Linked DNA regions of Homo sapiens: regions 2, 3 and 4 are each linked to region 1. The links come from fine-mapping of genetic effects on gene expression. A gene starts in region 1. Each other region holds a variant in brackets. All regions are shown on one strand. Distances are from middle to middle. Region 1 holds the start of CD47 (CD47 molecule). Region 2 has its middle 73 kb from the start of LINC00636. Region 3 holds the start of LINC01215 (long intergenic non-protein coding RNA 1215). Region 4 overlaps CD47 (CD47 molecule).

Region 1 (5,267 bases):
ATTCTGAGTCTTATGCAACTGCTCCATGGATTTGGAATGAAATATTCAGAGGTGGGTGTAGCTTGATTTCTGTTTCAACACTGTATAATCGTAAAGAGGAAAAACCCAGATTCTATTGTCTTAGTCTAGGTATATCAGAATCAAATTTCCTGGGTGCTCTGTATTTTCTACTTTAGTACTACAATGAGTTTAACAAAACTGATCCTACACTATTATTCTTGTTCTTTTTATCACAGAAGAAATATCTACACTAGTATACAAAGTGAAAGTAACTTTATGATAACCCAAGACGATATTATTAAAATCAGACTGAGAGATAAGATATGAAAATAGAAATGTTTATCTTGTATAAAAAGGTAGGCAGAAACCTAAGACAGGGAAAGTGATTGAAAATTATGCCACAAAAAGAACATTACTATATTAAAAGCAATGCCTATATACTAGCTATAGCTGAATTCATACTATGAAATGCAAATCTAGTTTTGCGAATATGCGTGATTATTTTGGATTTAGAATATGTATCAATTTGGGGGGAAAGTCATCTATCTCTCATCTTTAGAACTTGGCCTTTCAAATCTCCATGAACAACTCAGTGACAAAGATAAAACATCTGCCAAAACACAGATGACAGCATGAGCAAGTGTCCTAATGGTAGGCATTTAGTGTAATGCTTTAAAAAACACTGCCTCTAGACTGCTGGGGCGGCCCCATAAATACGTACTTTTAAATAGGCATTTACTTCCTTAAAATGGCAACTTGTAATTAAAAATAATATATTCTTTAAGAGAAAACATTTTTATTTAAACAAGCCAAATTACTACTAGACTTAGACGATGGAAAAAAATTTTATTTAATCATATGTACCCTGATTTAAAAAAAAAAACAACTCATTTTGAACAAAGAGGAATCATTCAACCACTGAAAAGACAGTTCACAACACCATCATTATTTATTTAAAGTTTTATTTGCTAGCTAATAAATACCACTGAAACTATGCACTTTTAAACAAAGTATAATTGTACATGAGTGGGGGCAGAGTGGAATGCAACATAGTAATTCATTTCACATCTTGCATACCATTAAGGTGCCTTCCAGTTTGCCTGTAATTGCATGAAATGAGTATCTGAGATAACTTCTTTTACCACAAAGGCCACTAACACTGTAGAGGGTGCCAGGAAAGGTCCCTGATTCCCGGGGCTTAATTAACGAAACTGAAAGCAAAATCAAACTTCAATACAAATGAATGTACAGATCCATCACTTTCTTACTCATTCTAGATTCTAAAGTCAGTCTCTCAAACCCTTGGTTTATAACTACCTATGTGCTGAGACATCTTTCTTCATACATGTCCTTTTGAAGCTATATATTAAACACATACAAAAACATATTTTATAACAAATACTATCCTGTTTTACAGTCCACACTTAACACAACTCAACTGCATAATGCCTGTATTTTGCTTTTTTTTTAGGTTAATATTAACTAAGTAAAATAAAATACTATAAATTCTGAATTCGATGACTCTAGGGATTCGAACACATTAAAATTGTGTGTAAACGAGTGCTAATTACATGATATTAACTATTACTAAAGAAGGCCTAACATAAATCCTATCACTCAAAGTACCATTCCAACAGTTCTAAACTACGTGATTTAAATCTAACCTACCTGTTTTAAAAATAGTATATGGTTTATACTTTTTACTTTTTAGGCAGTTTGAATAAATGATACTGTATCACTTCATATCTGGTTCAATATGAAGGCGTTCTGAAATTATTATGCGATTATACAACACATCTCTGAAAGCAGTATTATTTTAGCTATAATGATAGTAAAGGCAACAAGCATACTAAACGTGATGACAGGAAACACTAACATCAACCATTTAGATAACGGAGACCTGGATTCACAGTCCCAACATCCAGGATGCTCGGGGAGGGAGGAAAGTGGTAAGCAGAGACTTAAGGGCATCTTGGAAATACCTAAAGTCACAAGCCTTTAGGAACGGCACACCGAGGCTAATAATCAGTTTAAAATCGAATTAATTTAGCATTCTAGAATAAATGTAACAATTGCTGTCACTGGTGCTCAAGCTGAATTCTGAATCTTATAAAAGTTCACAAAAGGCTCTATGGATGTGAAGTGTGACAGGCACTCACTGTAGAGCTACGAATGTTTCTATTCCTTGCTCAGTTTTTACAGACGAAGCACACGTTTTACAAAAGCGAAATGGATTCCAAAAGCTCGGGGTGGGGGTGGGGGGGTGGAGGTTCTTTGGCGTCGAAAAACACCAAATCCCATTCTGCTGCACATGTTTTGACTGGAGGTTACTGTCTTCCTATTTCAGGCGAAAACCAGATTACTTTTAAAACGGTTCCCCCAAATAAAGTGGGAAAAACTTCAACGTACAATTTAGAATGTATGCAAGTGGCTGATGGGGCGTGAGGGTCACGAGAAAGGAAGAGTTTCCAGCAAGCTTATTTTTAGGATTAAAAACGACAGCAAAAATTACACGGCCGGAAGATTCTTCTGATTGAATGCTGAGTTGAAAATGAAACTTAATTGTGTCCTTTACGTCCTCTTCGCTCCTATGTTCATGTGGGAGGCAAACGGCAGAAACCCCTTCTCACCGACTTCGCCAAAATGCGCACTTCCATCGCAAGAGGCCCGGGCCCTCCCACTCTCCCTCCCTCAACCCCAAATGCGTCTAAGCACTGAGAAGGGAGAGGGGTGCGAAAGAAGGGGATCCCTAGCAGCTGCAGCCCCTTGCCTCTGATCGCGCCCTTTCTTGCTAGTTAATTTTTGCGCGAGGTGCGCGGTTTGGAGTCTTCCTGTGTGTGTGCATTTGGAGATGGAGAACCGGGTGGAGGAGATGAGCCCCGCTCTCACCCAGGGGGAAGAAGACGACCAGGGAAAGGAAGGGAGGAAGAAGGGGGGCGCCCGATTCCCCGTGGGGCCCTCCCACGTCTGCACTTCGGGCGCTCAGGGCCCGAGTGTTCTGCGCCCCGGCCACCCTCTTCAGGGCGCCGCCGGGCTGGCTGGGGCGCAGCCCACACGCCCGCGGGGGCGAAGCGACAGCAGCCGCAGGGCTGGGAGCGAGGAGCCACTCACCGCAGCACGCCGAGCCCAGCAACAGCGCCGCTACCAGGGGCCACATCTCCGCGCCCGCCGCGGGGTCGCCGCCGCCGCCGCAGGTGTCCGGAGCAGCAGCCGCCGCCGCCGTTACAGGCAGGACCGACCGCCGCCGCGCGTCACAGGCAGGACCCACTGCCCAGGCTGCACGGCCGCGCGCACGCGCGCTCCCACTGCTTCCCGCCCGCTCCCCCGCCTGCTCCCCGCCCGCGAGAGCCGCGCACGCGCACTCGGCCCCGCCCCGCAACCGCTGCTGTTGACGCGGCGCCCTCCCCAGTCGCAGGCTCCAGACCCGGGGCCCGCCTGCCCGCTCCACGGAGGCCGGATGCCTGCTCCAGGGCGGTGGCACGCGCCGCGCTTCCAGGTCACGTCCTGTCGCACCCGCCCGCCCCTGGGGTCCGCGTGCTCGCCCGCCGCAGGAGGCTGAACCCTGTGTTCCCACGCTCGCCGGGGACCTCATTGCACCCGTTCCTGTCCGCGGGTCGGTTCCTGCCTTTCGCGCGGCGCTGGGCCCCACTGTCCTCTCTCTCTACTTTTCTCCTCTTTGCTTTCACTCCCACCCTCGCGCTTCAGGGGCCGGGTCCCGTCCCGCCCCAGCCCGCGTCTCTCCCTGGACCCGACGTCCGGCTGCGCGCGTGGACCAGGACACCTAGGCTTTCACCAGCGCCCGTTTCCTCCGGACGCGGCCGTCTAGCGCCGAAGCGGTCCCTGAGCCCGAGGCCGCCACGCCCAGGGCAGGGCGGTGGTCGGGTACCTGCCCGCAGGGAGCTTCCACTCGCCCCTCGCGGGCTCTGCGTTCGGCTCGTCTACTCGCTCTGCTCTTCCCTATGCGGTTCTCTTCCCTCTTTCTCACTTGGTTCTTTAGTGTTTTCATCCTCTGATCAGGGTTAATCAAACAAGTTCCATTCACGGTGGTAAACATTGTTACCTGTGAACACCGCCACCACCGGGACTAGCGAGCATTGTCGCAAACAGGCATTAGCAGCGTATCCAACACATCCCCACCAGCAAGGTTATTGAGCTTGGTTTGTGACTGCCCCATGTGCAGCCCTCTGCGCTGCGCTTGGGTTTAACATGCTTGAAAAATGGGTTCGAAATGTGGCCGCAAGCCACAATAGGGACAAGGCTTTTGAATTTATCGCTGAATCACACAGGCCACATCATTCATCCTGAAGCAAAAGTCTTTTAAAGATACTTTTAACCGTTATCCTAACTGATGTACTCTCTTATCAAAAAGTCAGGCTCTGGTGGCTGCTCTAATGGAGTGCACATCCTGTCCACCTCCTTGATTGTTTTCCTCCTACCTCCTGGGAAAGAAAGCAATTTCCCACCACAATACCCCACTTCTCCAAATCCTCTACACAGTGCGGCTCCTCCCAAGCATCCCATTGCCACAGAAATAAAATCCAGCGTATGAAAGTGGCACTGTCTATGACACTCTGTACCAGTGTATTGTATACTATCGAGCTTCTTCCTGTAATTGCTTTTTTGTGTGAACCTCTTCCCCACAGCATTATCAATTCTTTTAAATCCGAGAGCATTTTAAGTATTCCCTCCTCCAAGACTTTCCATTGAGCTCGGCAAACAGAAGGGGTTTAATAAATGTGTTGATGCGGCGTGAGGCAGGCATTGCTCTAGTGAAATTTGATTGCTTTTTTAATGATTGAAAAATAAAAACAATTGCCTGGCAGACATCTCACTAAAACAATGGTTAATAATTATGGTGGTAATGATTTGAATGGCAGCCTTGACACCCCGAGGCAACCAAAGGGACTCATCGATTCTCCTCCAACTGCTGCTTATGTGGATACAAAAGAATCATCCACCAGACTTTGAGCATTAGGGACATTGTGTATCACAGAGCAGCTGGTTGGCTAAATAAGGCTGTCAGCTGTCCCTGATACCAACCAACCCCCCTAAAGCTGAAGAGTGACTAGAAAGGACTGTCCCCAACCTTCAGAGGTGGAGATCGGGTGATGTTCTGTTTTACACTGGGAGCTACTGAGCTATATGCTTAACGTCTTTTTGTGCAGAAAATGGAATGAGAGGCCACCTGGGTGACCACTGCTGCTCTTGGGAATCTAGCTGGGGTATGTTTTGGTGGTGGGGCAAAAGCAGGCATATCCCAGGAGAGA
Region 2 (5,267 bases), 130 kb before region 1:
AGGGATGGCACCAGATTCAAGAGGCTGAAGAAGAGACTGGGAGCCAGCAAACAAGACATGGGGTTTTACTGGAGGCTTACATACAAAACATGGGGTTTTACTGGAGGCTTACATACAAAACATGGGGTTTTATTGGAGGCTTACATACAAAACATGGGGTTTTACTGGAGGCTTACATACAAAACATGGGGTTTTACTGGAGGCTTACATACAAAACATGGGGTTTTATTGGAGGCTTACATACTGTCAAGTGGTGGTGGGCTGGACAGGAAAACCACAACCACTTGCAAACAGCATGCAGCTGATACGGCATCTTCACTTAATACCCTCCCCCTAACGACCTTTATCTGGCAACCTTCATTTAACCCAAAACTCAGGGCCTCAATTCCCTAACAGCCCGTGTTCCATGGGACAGGCAGGGGGCTCAGATGTTCCTCATAGACAAGGAATGAATCTCTGGGCTGGTCACTCCTGGATTCTCTAACTCAGAGCACACATTCAGGTGCATCTGCCAGATAGGGTCATTCTAAGGGTACGCTTAAATTAATGCTATTAGATGTGTTTACAGGAGGAAATAGACAGGAAGAGAGGTTTAGCTTTATCTTATTTTCTTTATTTATGAAAAAAAAAAAAGAAAAAGAAAACCTTAAGGAGACATGGCAAAATGTTAAGATGTGTTAAATCTGGGTAGTGGGTACCTGAGTGTTTTTTTTTTTAATTTTGTATATATTTGTAATTGTTCATAATTACATGTTTTTGAAGAAATAAAAATATGATCACCACTTTCATTATTTTTAATACACTATTGTAGTTCTTTTTCCTGGTGATTAAAATGCATGGGCTTTCTCCTTTCTGCATATTATTTTTTTTAGGTATCCTTTCTACACATTTTTTATAAAATCCTAGAATAGGAAGGAGATGTAGAGAACATTTGTTCAAATCTACTGCTTGACAAAGGCACTTCTGAATTCAAGTTGGTGTTCCAGGTAAAAACCCTTGCTAGAATTTTCCTTTATGCTTAATAATCTGGAAGATATGGTTTTGGTTAACTATTTTGTTTCAACTAAGTCAATGTCCATGGATAATGAGTTTTTTTTTTAATGCAGACCATAATCAATTACACCTAACATTGATACTATGCTGAAAACACAGTTTTATCTGTAATGACACAGTGACTGCGAAGAATCTCAGTGTTATCATCATAGTCTTCAGTTATTATTTTGGTTATATGTGAAAGCACCAATTGAAAGAGAACTGATTGGCAAAATGTCAGATAACCTGGAGTAAGGAGAATACAGGAAGAGGTGAGAATTACCCTTTATTGAGGTATTGTAGGTGTGAAAGTTGTCAGAATCAGAATGGAGTCAGTCATGTTAAAAAACCAACACACAAACAAAAAACCCTAACATATATAGCTGGAGAAGGCTATGAAGAGAGGGTTCTCATGCTCGTATGCCCAAAAATAAAACCACCACAAAAGACTCTGCAAAAACCACAACTTTGTGCAAAAGCCACCATAACCTTACACAAAAAATACTTCTGCAAGGACATCTGCCCAGCAACTGCCTGTCAACCTCAGACAGGCGCCACCTTGTTATTGATTTTTGTAGCCAAGGATAATTGCCTCAAAACAATTCTGTAATAGTCCTCCTCATTTCTTCTTTAAAAACCCTTGTCTCCCTTTACTTCCCTTAATACGCATATAATTTACTATGGCACGTGTATTCCCATTGCAATACTCGATTCCCAAATAAACATAATTTTCTTTTAGAGAGCCTCTCTCTGCTATTTAGGTTGACATGGGAGGTGCTTTAGATATTTGATTTTCTGCTAATCTTGCAGCAACCTGTAAGGTAGATGTTGTTATATTCTTTTTTCAGAGGTTCAGAGAGATGAAGTAATTTGCCCTACCTCCTGTTGAAAAACATTACCTCAAACCTGAAAATAGGCAAAAAGATGCCTATATATCCTTTCAATATCAAACTGGGCCCAGGGGATTATTAATTCTATTGGAGACTACACCTTTGTTTGATTTACTGTTTACTATTGATTAGGACGAGAGTCTATGAATCTGTGGTTAGCTGGTAGATTTTTGTTTGATAAAAATGCAAATGATTTCTGTTCAATAAAAAGTATAATGTCAGAGGACATTATCTATCTACCTATTTATCTATCTGTAAATATACATTTAGTCTTTTTGATTCTGGAATCAATTTTAAAATCCTAATGCTTCCCTCATTAATAATAAAATTTTACGTGTATCTTCGTATTTTTCTACGACAAAGTTTTGACTTACTATAATTTATACACTGAAGATCTTACAGCTTATAACTGGGAAAGCCAGTATGCAAGCCAGGGCTTTAGCTCTAGAGCTGATGCTTTTGCTCCCACATCCACTCTTTCTGGCCATATGTAGTATACTGCATTACTGAAAGCTTATGTTGAACTAAAAAGCTAGTCCTCCAACGTAGGGGTAGGGAAAAATCTCATTATCAGAAAAACAGTCCGATTTTTCATTTATCTGAGAGGAATGAGATGGAGAAATCCTATCTCTGGATATGAATCTCCTAATATATAAAGACCTTATCACTTGGACCCATACAGTTGCTCCCTCCTGTAAGTTTCTTCCCTCTCCCCGTCCAATAAATAAAGGAATAGAATAGATTATCCACAATTTTGTACTTCGTATACCCCTTCATAGTCTGGGTTATATTGAATGCGTACTGTAAATGACTAGTCACTGTTCCCACCCTCAGCTTCTATCACCATCCCTACGCAACCAATTTCCAGCTCTATACCAAATCCCTATAACCTAAGGCATTTTACAAAAATAGCTATATTCTATAAACTCCAGGAACATACACTCACAAACAGATATGGTAAAATCACACTTGTTCAGTTTAATCAAGAAAGTTTGGACTGAATTAGTGAAAATATGGAATTGTGGAGTATTTTTAAAGAACTGAAGTAGTATTAATTTCAAGTATCTATATGATGGTATTTCAGTTATAAAACTAT[G/A]CATGGTATTTGTCCTTGGGGACTTAATTAATGGAAAGATAAAAGTGGTATGTAATCAGCTTATCAACAGAAGGAAGAAATGTGAGCATTTCTTAAGTGATTGCAAAGTTTGTTCTCTTAAGCAGGTTAAACAACTCCCAGTTTCCTTGTAACCCTTTCCAGATTCAAATTAATGCAGAGTATCATGTCTTCATAAAAAATATCGACTGAGCTCTTTCAAATCCAAAGCAAGGATGTGTGAACTAAAGAGGTTTTATTGCTTCTACATTTTTTCCTGTAAGTTCCTTCAATTAAAGGAGCTAATTACTTAGTCCACATCCCTGGTAACACCATCTTGAAACAAAATGTTGGACAAGGTCTCCTGACAACCAGTGGCCACCACCCTTTTGCTCAGAAAATGGGGGCTACTGTTGTACCAGCCGGAGCCCAGAGGACACAGGCGGGCAGCTGGCAGCACTGCCTGCTCATGCTAATGATCCCAGTCCAGCGCTTCCCTTCTAGGGAAGAAGGAGGACAGAAGTGGATGCCAAGTTCTTGCACAAGGTCAAACGTTTCTGGAGGAAAGGAGCCAAGGTTAGATTAGCAGTGAGAATGACATAGGAAGCTGGGTGGAGAAAAACACCGGCTGAGGGGGAAAAGTCTGGAAACACAAATGGAGACAGCAGTAAAAAGTAATTACTAACACATTTCCCAACTTGGAAAGCCAGCCACATCCCACACCAGGGCCAGACTCAGAGCTCTTCTGTTCCAAGGAGGTTGGAGCGGGCTCAGGGACAGGAAAGGATTTTGCAAGCCAGCCGCCTCCCTCTCACTGGCTTTGGAACTGTGCGCCCTGAAAAGTGGAATTCATCTTGAAAGAGAAAGCAGAGGACACTTCTGCCTAAATTCTCCATTAAGATACACATTTTCCATACATACAGTGTAGCCATCCTTTCAGTACTACTCAATAGCAAAAGATAATCAACATCGAAACAAAGGAAAGGGAAATCTTTGAGGAGAATGTAAGCTTTTGCAAACCTAAAATATCTTCCTTCTCTGCCTTTTATCAACATCACTGGAGAAGAGAAACTGTTTGTGGGAGGGACAGACCCAAGGAAAGGAGGAGGAGGAGGGAAGAAAGGGGGAGGGAGAAGAGAAGCAATGCTCTCTGGTGTCAGGGAGAAATTCACGACTGGATTGACTGTTTTGACAGTTGATTTTTACTTTTTTTTCCCTCCAACTTCAGAACCATGACAGACAATTGCTGAACATCAAACTAAGGAGTGAACACTTCATCAGATCTGCTTGCCTTAACAACAAAAATAGCCAAAATGTTAAGACAGTCAAACTAGATTGATTGTTTTTGATACAATCTGTGAGTGGTTGACCCAAGAATTCTCAATCTAATCACGCCTATAAATACAGAGACTGTATCCACAGATGCAAAAGCAGCCAGAGGACAAGTGAGAAATTCGTCAGTCACCTGGATGCCTCATCTCTACAATGGCACTGAACAGCATGTGAAGAGACACCCGCAAGGGTCTGTGAGTGGCTTCTGGGCGCTGGGTCTCACAGGAAGCATCTACTTTAAAAGCTGGGAATGCTGATCCTTTCAGTTTCTATCAAGAAGACAAAGTCTGGCTTATAATAGAAAAACAGATTCCCCCAAATCATTGTCTAGAGGTGTTGAATCACACATGAATGTCAGCAAATGATGCCAACTATGGATCACTTTCCTGGGGACTTTATCTGGTGTGAACCAAGAGAATCCTACTTCATGCATTTTTTTAAACATCCACAGATAACTGTTGTGCTGTGTCATAGACCAAAAGGGAAATTACATTTTTCTCATAATTGGATTTGGTACTTGTAGGCTTTCCTGAAGACAAGGAAAAGGAAATTTATTTTAGATTCTTAAAAAACCTTGAACTAAAAAATTTCAATCAGCATATCAGGTGCCTATCTGAATTCAACCACCACTGTGGCAGAGATGGATGACTTCGTGTACCGGTACAGGAGAAAAGGGTTCCTGAAGCTTCATTCTTGTTTGTTTGTTTGGTTGGGCTTTTTCTTTTCATTCTGAGTTCTAAAAAAGTTATTACTTGATAGCTTGGTGGCAATGCAGTCTGTGTTGAGAAAATAGGAATTGATTAAGAAGTGAGAGACTGTGAGAGACTGAAAATGAGTAAGAAAAAAAAAAAGCCTACAAAGCATTTACAGTGTAATTTTCCAATACAGATTTGAGTAGATACTGCATGCACTTAGAAACA
Region 3 (4,626 bases), 36 kb after region 1:
TGAGAGTTAACAAATGAAAATTTTATTTAAAAGTTTTAAAATTTTGTTTTTTTTAAAAAAGGAGAGCATTGAAAGGTGATTAATCTACAGAAACAAAGAACTATTTCAAACACATTTAAAAAGGCACAATTAGAAGAATACCGCAAAAATAAAAAGAAAAATTCAGTTTGATCTGAGGGGGAAAAGAAAAAGCTGTTTTCATGAAAAACAGATTTTGAAGTACTTTTGTCATCAGCTTCCTTTCAATTCTTCTGGTTAATTTCATGAAGGCTGTGCGACCTTTCAACTTCCAAATGTTTGCAGGAGGGAAGGGTGGTAACGTGTGAGTGGAAAAACAATTAATTTTCAAGGTATGGGATTTTATAGTAGAGACTTCCTTAGCAGGATGGACCGTGACAGGGTGTTAGTGATGGAGACCTTAGGAGGAGAGGGCAGAAGATATGGGTTTGAGGTCCTGATGTACTCTGCCTGCTGTGTGATCTTGGACAAGTTCCGACCCCTCTCAGGGGTTCAACATCTTCCTACCTACATGAAGTGATGGGATCAAACACCTCTGTGGCCCTCTCTAGTCTATATGTTTGCATTTCTAACTGTAGAGCATGATAAAAAAATAAATCAGAAGTCAGTGATCTTTAGGTTACTAGTCAGGATGAAACTCAAAAGATCTATTTTTAAAATTATGAGTATTGGGTGTGGTGAAAATATTCATATTTGGGGTCAGAGAGTTTTTCTAATAGAATCAATTCTAGAGCATTCAGACTTGCTCTCACCCCAAAGAGGAAGTGAATGAAAGCTCTTCTTTCTCCTCTGCTGCTTTCTTTGTCCATGGGAGTATGCAAATTTTTCTGGCAACACAGAAGACTGAACACAGGAAGCCTGAACCCCGTGAAGCCATAAGGCTTAGCATGGGTGTGGAGGGTGATCAACCCCTCATCTGTCATTCAGAACTCCATGCTGCAACACAGAGGGGAAAAAAAACCTTCTGCTCCCTGTTTCAACCTCAAGGGCAGAGAACACAGGCCGAGTTGCTGTTCTTGTCTCACAATCTGGAGGCCAGAAGTCTGAAATCAAGGTGTCGGCAGGATTGGCTCCTTCTGGGAGCTGCGAGGGAAGTATCTGTTCCAGGCCTCTCTCCTTGGCTTACAGATGGCTGTTGATATGGTTTGGCTGTGTCCTCACCCAAACCCCATCTTGAATTGTAGTTCCCATAATCTCCACGTGTCATGGAAGGGACCCGGGGGAGGTAATTGAATCATGGGGGCAGTTACCTTCACGCTGTTCTCGTGAAAGTGAGTGAGTTCTCAGGAGATCTGATAAGGGGACTTTCCTCATTTTACTCACTCAGTTCTCTTCCTGCCACCACTTGAAGAAGGACGTGTTTGCTTCCCCTTCTGCCGTGATTCTAAGTTTCCTGAGGCCTCCCCAGCCATGCTGAACTGTGAGTTAATTAAACCTCTTGCCTTTATAAATTACCCAGTCTTGGGTATGTCCTTATAGCAGCATGAGAATGGAAATACAGCCATCTTCTCCATGTGTCTCTTTACATTGTCTTCCCTCTGTAAGCGTTCGTTTCTGTTATAAGACACTAGTCTTATTGGATTAGAGACTGTAATGACCTCATTTAAATTTGATTACCTCAGTAAACACACTATCTCCAAATAAGGTCACATTCTGAAATATTCAGGGTTAGGACTCCAGTAATATCTTTTTGTGGGGAGACACACTTCAATCCATAACATACTATAAGAGAAGGGAGCGCTTACCACTGTCCATTACCTGGAACCAGTTCAGACAACCATCATCTTTCTACATGCGATGGAGAAAACAGTTCACCTGGGCATTTTTGCTATGACAGGAGGAAACGTCAATATCAAACCATTGGAGAAGGTAGCTGAGTCATTCATTTGTGGCAGCAACCATCTTTCCTTCCCGCACCCCCTGGCTAGG[C/T]TGCTCCATGTTGGGAGGTGGTGTGTTCAGTACAGCCACAGTGAGCTAAGTGAGGGCTTCAGCTGCAGGCTGGAGTGACCCAGGGAGGAACTGCCGCCTATCAAAAGGAAACACCTGCCACAGAAGGTTCACTGAAGCCTGAGAAAATAAACGTCAAGAGCTCTGGGCTGTGCCACCACCAGTCTCCACCACTATTCTGAGGCAGAATGCACCTATTGGCTCACAATGCTGTGAAAGAAAACAAGAAAGTCGTGATGGTGAGCGCTGCCCTGCAGAGATAATGAGCCACTAGAGTAGTTCTGAGGCAGGAGCCAGAGGAGCTGTGACACAGAGGCAGTCAGGGAGTGGGACTGGGGTCACAGGAGGGGCTGGACCCAGTGGTCTAGTGCCTCATCTCATTCCAGATATGTGACCTAAGATCTGCATGTGTGTGCCTGTGCATGTGTGTGCCTATGTGTATGTGGATATGTGGCAACATATATGTGCATGCATGTAAGTGAGTACACATGCATGTGCATGTGGTGGGGTGTGGGTGACTGGATAGAGGGAGCATGGGGAAAGGGAGGGAAAAGAGGGTTAAAACCGTGACAGGATAATAAGCATCTGAAATACTTAACTACAACAAAATGTTCTGAGGCTTTGTACAGCCTTATTTTCCAAACTGCAGGTTGTGGCTCAGCAGTCAGCTGGGAAATCAATTTACCCATGCAGAGATTCTTAACCTGGGTCTGTGGACACTGCCCTTTCCCCACAAGAGGCCCAAGGATAGAATTGTATTTCAATATCATTGATTTCCTTTGTAAGCCTAAGAGTTTTGCTTTATGCATTTAAAAACACTACAAGAAAGGATCCATAGGCTTCATCACATGGGGTAGAAATGGCACGTGCACACATGCATACACACACACACATACACACAAACAGATACACACACACACACAAACACATATACACACACACACAAGGTTAAAAATCTCTAGGTCAAAACCAGCATTTTAAAAAGTTATTAAGATAACTAGATTATAAAGAAATTAAAAAATTTGAGCTATGCATGTAATGAGGGTACTGTTTTGTGAAACTGGTTTTAGATATACAAATACTTGTGTATATAAAATATACATATGTATATGTGTGTACATATTTATGCACACACATTTATTTATTTGTTTATTTTGTGATGGAGTCTCGTTCTGTCACCCAGGCTGGAGTGCAGTGGCATGATCTCAGCTCACTGCAACCTGTCTCCCGGGTTCAAGCAATTCTCCTGCCTCAGCCTCCTAAGTAGCTGGAACTACAGGCATGCCACCATACCCAGCTAATTTTTGTATTTTTAGTAGAGACGGGGTTTCACCATGTTGGCCAGGATGGTCTCGATCTCCTGACCTTGTGATCTGCCCGCCTCAGCCTCCCAAAGTGCTGGGATTACAGGTGTGAGCCACCCTGCCTGGCCATTTATTTTTAACTGTAGGGCATAGGGCAAAAAATTGATAGCTAGTGTTCAATAGCCTACTGGACATTAGGGTAAAAGATTTTTTTAAAAAATTTTTAAAAATTATGAGTGAGGAATGTAGTGGGCCATTTGTGTTTCAGAGTGGAGGGCTCTGCTATTAGGCAGACATTTGACTTTTCACTCGGCACATCCACATTCCAGCCAGTCTCCCAGTGAATGGTGATAAGCTGGCCCTGATCATGCCTGTATGGCTACACCCCTCTCTGCCTTGTTGAGGCCTGAGTTAATTTGAAGTGTTGCAGAGACATGTGTTGATTCCTGTGGCTACAAGGCTCCCGGAAGTGTCAGAGGCAGAGGTATTGTTTCCTGGGAGGGGTGTCTTCCTGTGTACCGCTGGTGTACCACTGGTGTATGCCTGCCCAGAAGTTTGTTCTTTCACACCCACAGGGCCACCTGAAGAAACAGAGATAGGGTCTCCCACGGAATGGGGCAGCAAAAGAAGTAAAGCAAAAGTGAAGAAAAGAGAAATAGGGGGCAGCAAGTGTTCAGGAAAAGGGGGGTCAGATAGGAGAGAGAAGCAAAGAGAAAAATCAAAGTGTATAAAGCAAGTGGCGGGACTCGCTGAGCTGTAGGTGTAGTAAGAAGCTATCACACCAGCCTGTTAGCTCCCTGCAGGATTCACAGCATCAAGGATGGTGAAACCGAAAGAAAGAAAAGGTAGTTCAGCAGGAAAGATCAACAAAGACAAATCCTGGGACGAATCCAAGCTGCTATTAGAATCGAACCAAGCAAAGATATGACCACCTATGTTAGCGACCTGTTGCTTAGTTTATTTTAAATGAAACTCATATTTACTTGATTAATTTAGAAAATCTGAGATTCACTAGAGCAGGAACTTTGCCTTCCTCAGTTCCTAGACCAGTACCAGTTACATGGTGAAGGCTTAATAAATATTTATAAAGGAATGTTAATTAATCAGCTGGTAATTGATATGTAAAATTGCTTGAAATTATAAAATAATAGTGACAACTAAAAGTAATACAGTGCATAATAGTTTAGAAATCAACTTCATGATTATCTCATTTAATCCTCACACAGTCCCATCAGGTATCACCATGATCATCCTCACCTTAAGAATAAGACACTAGTTCGAAGCCACTCTATGATTTGTGCCTGGGATTTTAATCAATATTCTCTGATGCAAAAGCCAACCTAGCACTTTGCCTCTT
Region 4 (5,267 bases), 25 kb before region 1:
ACAGTCAATCAAACATTCATAAGAAACTCTTCCAGGTTTAAGTCAATGCATAAAAAAGCTACTAAGATCAAGCAACAAGAATTTGCCTTAGAGTACAGTATAATTTCATGGAAAAAGGTTGACTTATGTTCTTCTTCTATATTTTTCTTTTTCTTTTCTTTTTTTTTTTTTTTGGAGACAGAGTCTCTCACTCCGTTACCCAGGCTGGAGTGCAGTGGCACAATCTCGGCTCACTGCAAACTCTGCCTCCCAGGTTCAATGATTCTCCTGCCTCAGCCTCCCGAGTAGCTGGGACTACAGGCATGCGCCACCAGGCCTGGCTAATTTTTGAATTCTTTTTTTTTTTTTTTTAGTAGAGACGGGGTTTCACATTGTTGGCCAGGCTGATCTCGAGCTCCTTACCTCATGATCCACCTGCCACGGCCTCCCAAAGTGCTGGGATTACAGGTGTGAGCCACCATGCCTGGTGACTTACATCCTTCTTAACAAAAATAAGAGTTTGAATCTCATATAAAATTTATCCTCTTAAGGCTTAGAAGAGCTGTTATAGGAGAAAACAGTGCAAACAATAGCAACAAAAATAAAACATCACAAAATACTACCATAGACAGGGTTCCACCATAAAATGGTCCGTCTCTCTTTGAGTATAAGTACACTATATATTGAAAGTAGTTTTGGTTCCTGTTGATTAGTTCAACTACTACTTATTTTCCAGGCCACCTTAAACTTTTCCTTAAATTAAGTAGCCATTTCCAACAAATACACATGTTGAGGATCCCAAGTGTGAAAAAATCTGAAATCCAAAACACTTCTGGTCCCAGGCATTCTGGATAACGGACACTCCACCTGTCTCTGTGGGGTCTACTAATGAAAGAGTATCTCCAGGTTTTCTTCAGTGAATCTTCAGAAAGAGTTTCTTTTGGCTCATTTTCTTTGCTCACATGGTCACATTTCAGCAGGTACCACAGCTAATGTGGGGTAGGTATCTTGTTGCTAGCCCAGTCGTCAAATTTCTCAGTATAGTGAAAGGGCAAGGAATTTGATATAATAGATGCCATAGAACCCAATAACCTCAAGGATCTCTTATTGATCTTTTCTTGTCCTTCAGTAAGTGGATTTATCCTTATTTATTGAATGTATCAAAACATTAAATGCAGCAAAAAAAATAAATTCAAGTAATTCTCCACTTAGCATTAAGATAAAAATAACTCAATGTGTTGTTAACAGCAGGCTCTTATCAAATTTTCTAGTATGACTTTCAGACGGCTTGGCAAGGCAATCTATGTAATTTTTAAAATCTGCATGCTCTTAAGGATTACCCTCAGCTACAACTACTGAAATCAATACACAAAATAAAGTACATGAGAAATAACAGTAATTACATGCTTAACAAAAAATGTATAACCTTAGTGCTCAGCCTGACACAGGAATACCAAGTATCAGGGGAGACAATATAACATTTTTGTGAACAAATTAGGTATTCTAAAATTTTCTTTTATATGTTCTATAAAATAATTAGTAACCAAAAGCAGGCTACTTCTAAGAAATCTGTTGGGTTGGTTCATTCATCTGTTCTACAAATATTTACTGTGTACCTACAATGTACCAGCCCCTTTTGCTAGTCTAAATCAAGGAACAAGTAGATTACTTTATTTGACAATAATTGATTGAGCACTATCCATCTATATGACTATCACTATTCTAAATGCTGACAGTGAACACGAAAAGCAAACACAAGGCCTGCCTCAAGGCCCTTACATTCTAATGGGTGAGTGTGTGTGTTTGAGGGGAGGGGGGTGTGAGTGATGAGTATGTTACTCCCAAAACTTCTTTCCCAGTTAAAGAGATGGTGAAGGCCTACTCTACTCTAAGAAAATTCCTTTATGCATTTAATCTTTCAAATTCATGCAGATGAAGCAATGACATGTCCCTCTAGCCACCTGAAAAAACAGCTAATGTTATGAATGGACAAGAAGGTTTTCTGATTTTGTGACCAATAGACAGCACATACAAGATAAAATGCAGGTTGTGACTGATGAAATCTAATGAAATTACCAAGTCAACTTGGGGATAAAATCAAGTCTATCATGCTAAGTTTCCATGACACCCCAAAGACTGGATTTGACACACCCATATAGGCTCACACAGACTGCAGTCCATCCAACAAAACCCAAAACCCAAGAATTTAATGCCTGCCCAAAGACATGACATTTGGAGTGATTGGTAAGTAAGCAGAGAGACAGGAAGGCTTACCAGGCTGATGCGTATCAGACTAAGAATAAATCATAAAGAAAGATGGGTTTGATTTCATTATTACAGTGCTGTTTTCTGATAACTCTAGGAAAGTAATTTTAGAATATATTTGGTGTCTGTTGAGCTGTAAATGAATATTGTTTTCAGTGCAGAATAAAGCACATCAGACACCTTTACACATAAAATTACAATTTCATTTTTTAAATTGTTTAAATTTAAATTACTATTTTTCAAGTATCTAATACACTTATTTAACACACACATGCATACACAAATGAAAGCTTCTGAAACTGGTACTGGAAAAAAATGAACATTAATACCAATTATAAAATTACTTGACAGAAGACAAGTTAAATCATTTTATAATAATCTCCATACACTATCCAACTTGCTCTAATGAAACAATTTTGTCACAATGAATACTGACTAGACATCAGTCTATAGGACAGAGATAAAAGAGTCCAGGCTTTGTGCATCAAGTACTTTGAACATAAAAGATGAAAGAAGAGGATGTCCAACAGACCAAACTTCCTTTTTTTCATTATCAACTTTCCCTGCCTTGTGGATTTCACAATTTTTGAGTATATGGAGAAGGTTGTGATGTCTGGATTTGGAAAGGGTCAAGGGATTTCTACAAAAGAGTAAAATGCTGAGCTATAGATTTGTTCAATTCCTCCTACAATAAAATCAGCACA[T/C]AAGCACATTATTTAATAACAGAATGTGATCATTATATGGACAGGACCAAGGGAAAGCACTGGGAGTTCAAGATTATTGAACAGAATTCACTGTAAGGGGCCATGCATGGTGGCTAATGCCTGTAATCTCAGCACTTTGGGAGGCCGAGACAGACGGATCACGAGGTCAGGAGTTCGAGACCAGCCTGGCCAATATGGTGAAACCCCATCACTACTAAAAATACAAAAATTACCCAGGCATGGTGGTGCACGCCAGTAGCCTGTAGCTACTCGGGAGGCTGAGACAGAAGAATCGCTTGAACCTGGGAGGCGGAGGTTGCAGTGAGCCGAGATCACGCCACTGCACTCCAGCCTGGGCAACAGAGCGAGACTCCGTCTCAAAAAAAAAAAAAAAAAAAAAAAAAAAAAAAAAGAATTCACAGTAAACTTAATAACAAAGTCTTATTACCAGGGGCCATCAACCAGGTCACAGAATGATTCTTTGTGATAATATTTATTGTATATTTTACTTTCTTGGATGGAAATTTCCTAGTCCAAGATAGGCTATGTCTTCACTTTTTCAGAATAATTTTTCTAATCTATGAAGAAATTTCCTGTTCCATTACTTATTTTAAATATGCTTTCATGGCTGAATTACTTTCATTATTAAGCTGTCCTCAAGTCAAAACTCAAGGACTTGGTAGGATCTCAAGGTAGTGTAATGAGAACTTTTTTCCTTGAATTTTCTAACAATGATTTCTACAGGAACATCTACTCAAAGACATCTGAGCCGTAACCAAAATCTCTGTGGAGTAATTTTGAGCAGGGAGGGGAAAGTTGAAAAAAAAAAATTAAAGATGCCTAGAATACAGTTTTAAATTTGGAATCAAGTACAGCAGTCCTCACTTTGCACTATTCTGATATGAATTCCAGTTACCATGGTTTAATCAAATAAATCCCTCATAAACAGTCCAAATTTCAATTACCACAATATATTAACTGAGTAACTGCATAAAGTACAACTTCACTGCTATTTCTTCAGTTCAAAAATAACTATGTAAATAGCAGATGTCCCATCATGATCAGTGATCAACCATGTCACTTCTTTTGAAGACTGTTGGTGACTAGTCACTGTACATCTGATATTTAGGTCATGCACAGACAGCAAAGTATGGAGTTTTGTTACCTCCTTGTTTCCCAGTGATAAACCCATGTGACATTTTATAATGGATAAATCAAAAGAGGAAACTAGGCAAGAAAGATGAAAGAGTAAAGAAATAAAAACTGACAAATGCTAGGAGTGAAATTTGAATAGACCATAAATGGAGTAAGAGAAGAAATAGCTGATTGTGCGAATGTCGACATTACTGCAATGCAAGAAACTCTAGAGATGAAGCCAGAAGAACTCAGCGAAGGTGGACTTACTGATATAAATGAGGAAAGTGAGGAGGATGTAACAAAAAGAATAAAGATGTCCCAGAGGAAGTGACTGGCAATAAAATAAACTTTAAACATTCAAAAAAACATTAAAGGAATTCTTTCATGACATTGAGAGTGCAAAGGATAAAACGGTAGAAACCGATCCAAACTTAGAAAGGGGTATGACAATTCACCAAGCCATAGAGAAGATGCTTGCTCTGTATCCAAAGTTATGCAAGAAGAACACACAAGTGTTGTTCAAACTACTCTTGATAACACACTTTCATTCTCGATGTTTCTAATGATTTAATTTACCACATACTAAATACTAGCTTTACTATTTTTCATTTCCCAATGCCGTTGTTATTGATAATAACAGAGTTTTTAAGGTTTTAACAACAAAAAAAATTTTAAAGGTCATGGAACAATATAATAATAGTTTTTCCCATTCATCATGAAGATTGTTTTGCAGAATTTCAGCTTACATGGTCATGTTTATGGTCTTGCGGTTTTGTGCGAAGCCAGTATTGCCTGTATAAAACAAAGTTACAAAGGCAAAGAAAGAACAGATAGGCCTATCTCAAAGAATTTCAAAATGTTAGCCAGTTCTTTACATACAGTTGGACCTTAATCCTGCAGGAACTGGAGGACTAGGTGGACAGCACTTAAAATGATATCAGAGTGAGAAAGAAGAATCCTGAAAATCAGCCAGGAACTTAATTGTCAGTAGAGTGGCAAACTGTGAGTTGGTGTAGTTTTCAGAACACAAACAAAGCGTCTGAAATTCAATACTATCAGTTAAGCCTTGGTGTTTGATTCTAGCAATCTCTGAGCTGTTTGCTAAGCATAGAGATTCTGCTTAAAAGTTCCTAAGTTAAAGCTAAGCTAAAGGTGAAGGTATTTAGGAACATTTCCCTGTAA

The links. PIP is the estimated chance that this variant, and not a neighbour inherited with it, causes the effect. A credible set is the group of variants that fine-mapping cannot tell apart.
Region 2: its variant is the best candidate, but not a certain one, in a credible set for the expression of CD47 in lung (TOPMed, PIP 0.66).
Region 3: its variant is the best candidate, but not a certain one, in a credible set for the expression of CD47 in whole blood (TOPMed, PIP 0.55).
Region 4: its variant is the best candidate, but not a certain one, in a credible set for the expression of CD47 in tibial artery (GTEx, PIP 0.67).

What each region holds. Positions count from the first base shown.
Region 1 is chr3:108,087,752-108,093,018 of GRCh38, forward strand. It overlaps CD47 (CD47 molecule), which reads right to left and starts at 3,280. Exons shown (of 11, transcript NM_001777.4): 1 at 3,112-3,280. The coding sequence starts at 3,157. RefSeq lists silencers at 3,004-3,753, 3,774-3,823, 3,834-3,893.
Region 2 is chr3:107,953,595-107,958,861 of GRCh38, forward strand. No RefSeq gene overlaps it. Among named protein-coding and RNA genes, the nearest start is that of LINC00636, 73 kb to the left of the region's middle. RefSeq lists a silencer at 235-435. The variant G/A (reference allele first, on the strand shown) is at 3,019.
Region 3 is chr3:108,123,705-108,128,330 of GRCh38, forward strand. LINC01215 (long intergenic non-protein coding RNA 1215) reads left to right here and starts at 1,360. Exons shown (of 2, transcript NR_110030.1): 1 at 1,360-1,438. RefSeq lists enhancers at 543-802, 597-1,097, 883-932, 1,003-1,142, 1,423-1,472 and 2 more. The variant C/T (reference allele first, on the strand shown) is at 1,948.
Region 4 is chr3:108,062,485-108,067,751 of GRCh38, forward strand. All of the region lies in intron 3 of CD47 (CD47 molecule), which reads right to left. Among named protein-coding and RNA genes, the nearest start is that of CD47, 26 kb to the right of the region's middle. The variant T/C (reference allele first, on the strand shown) is at 2,949.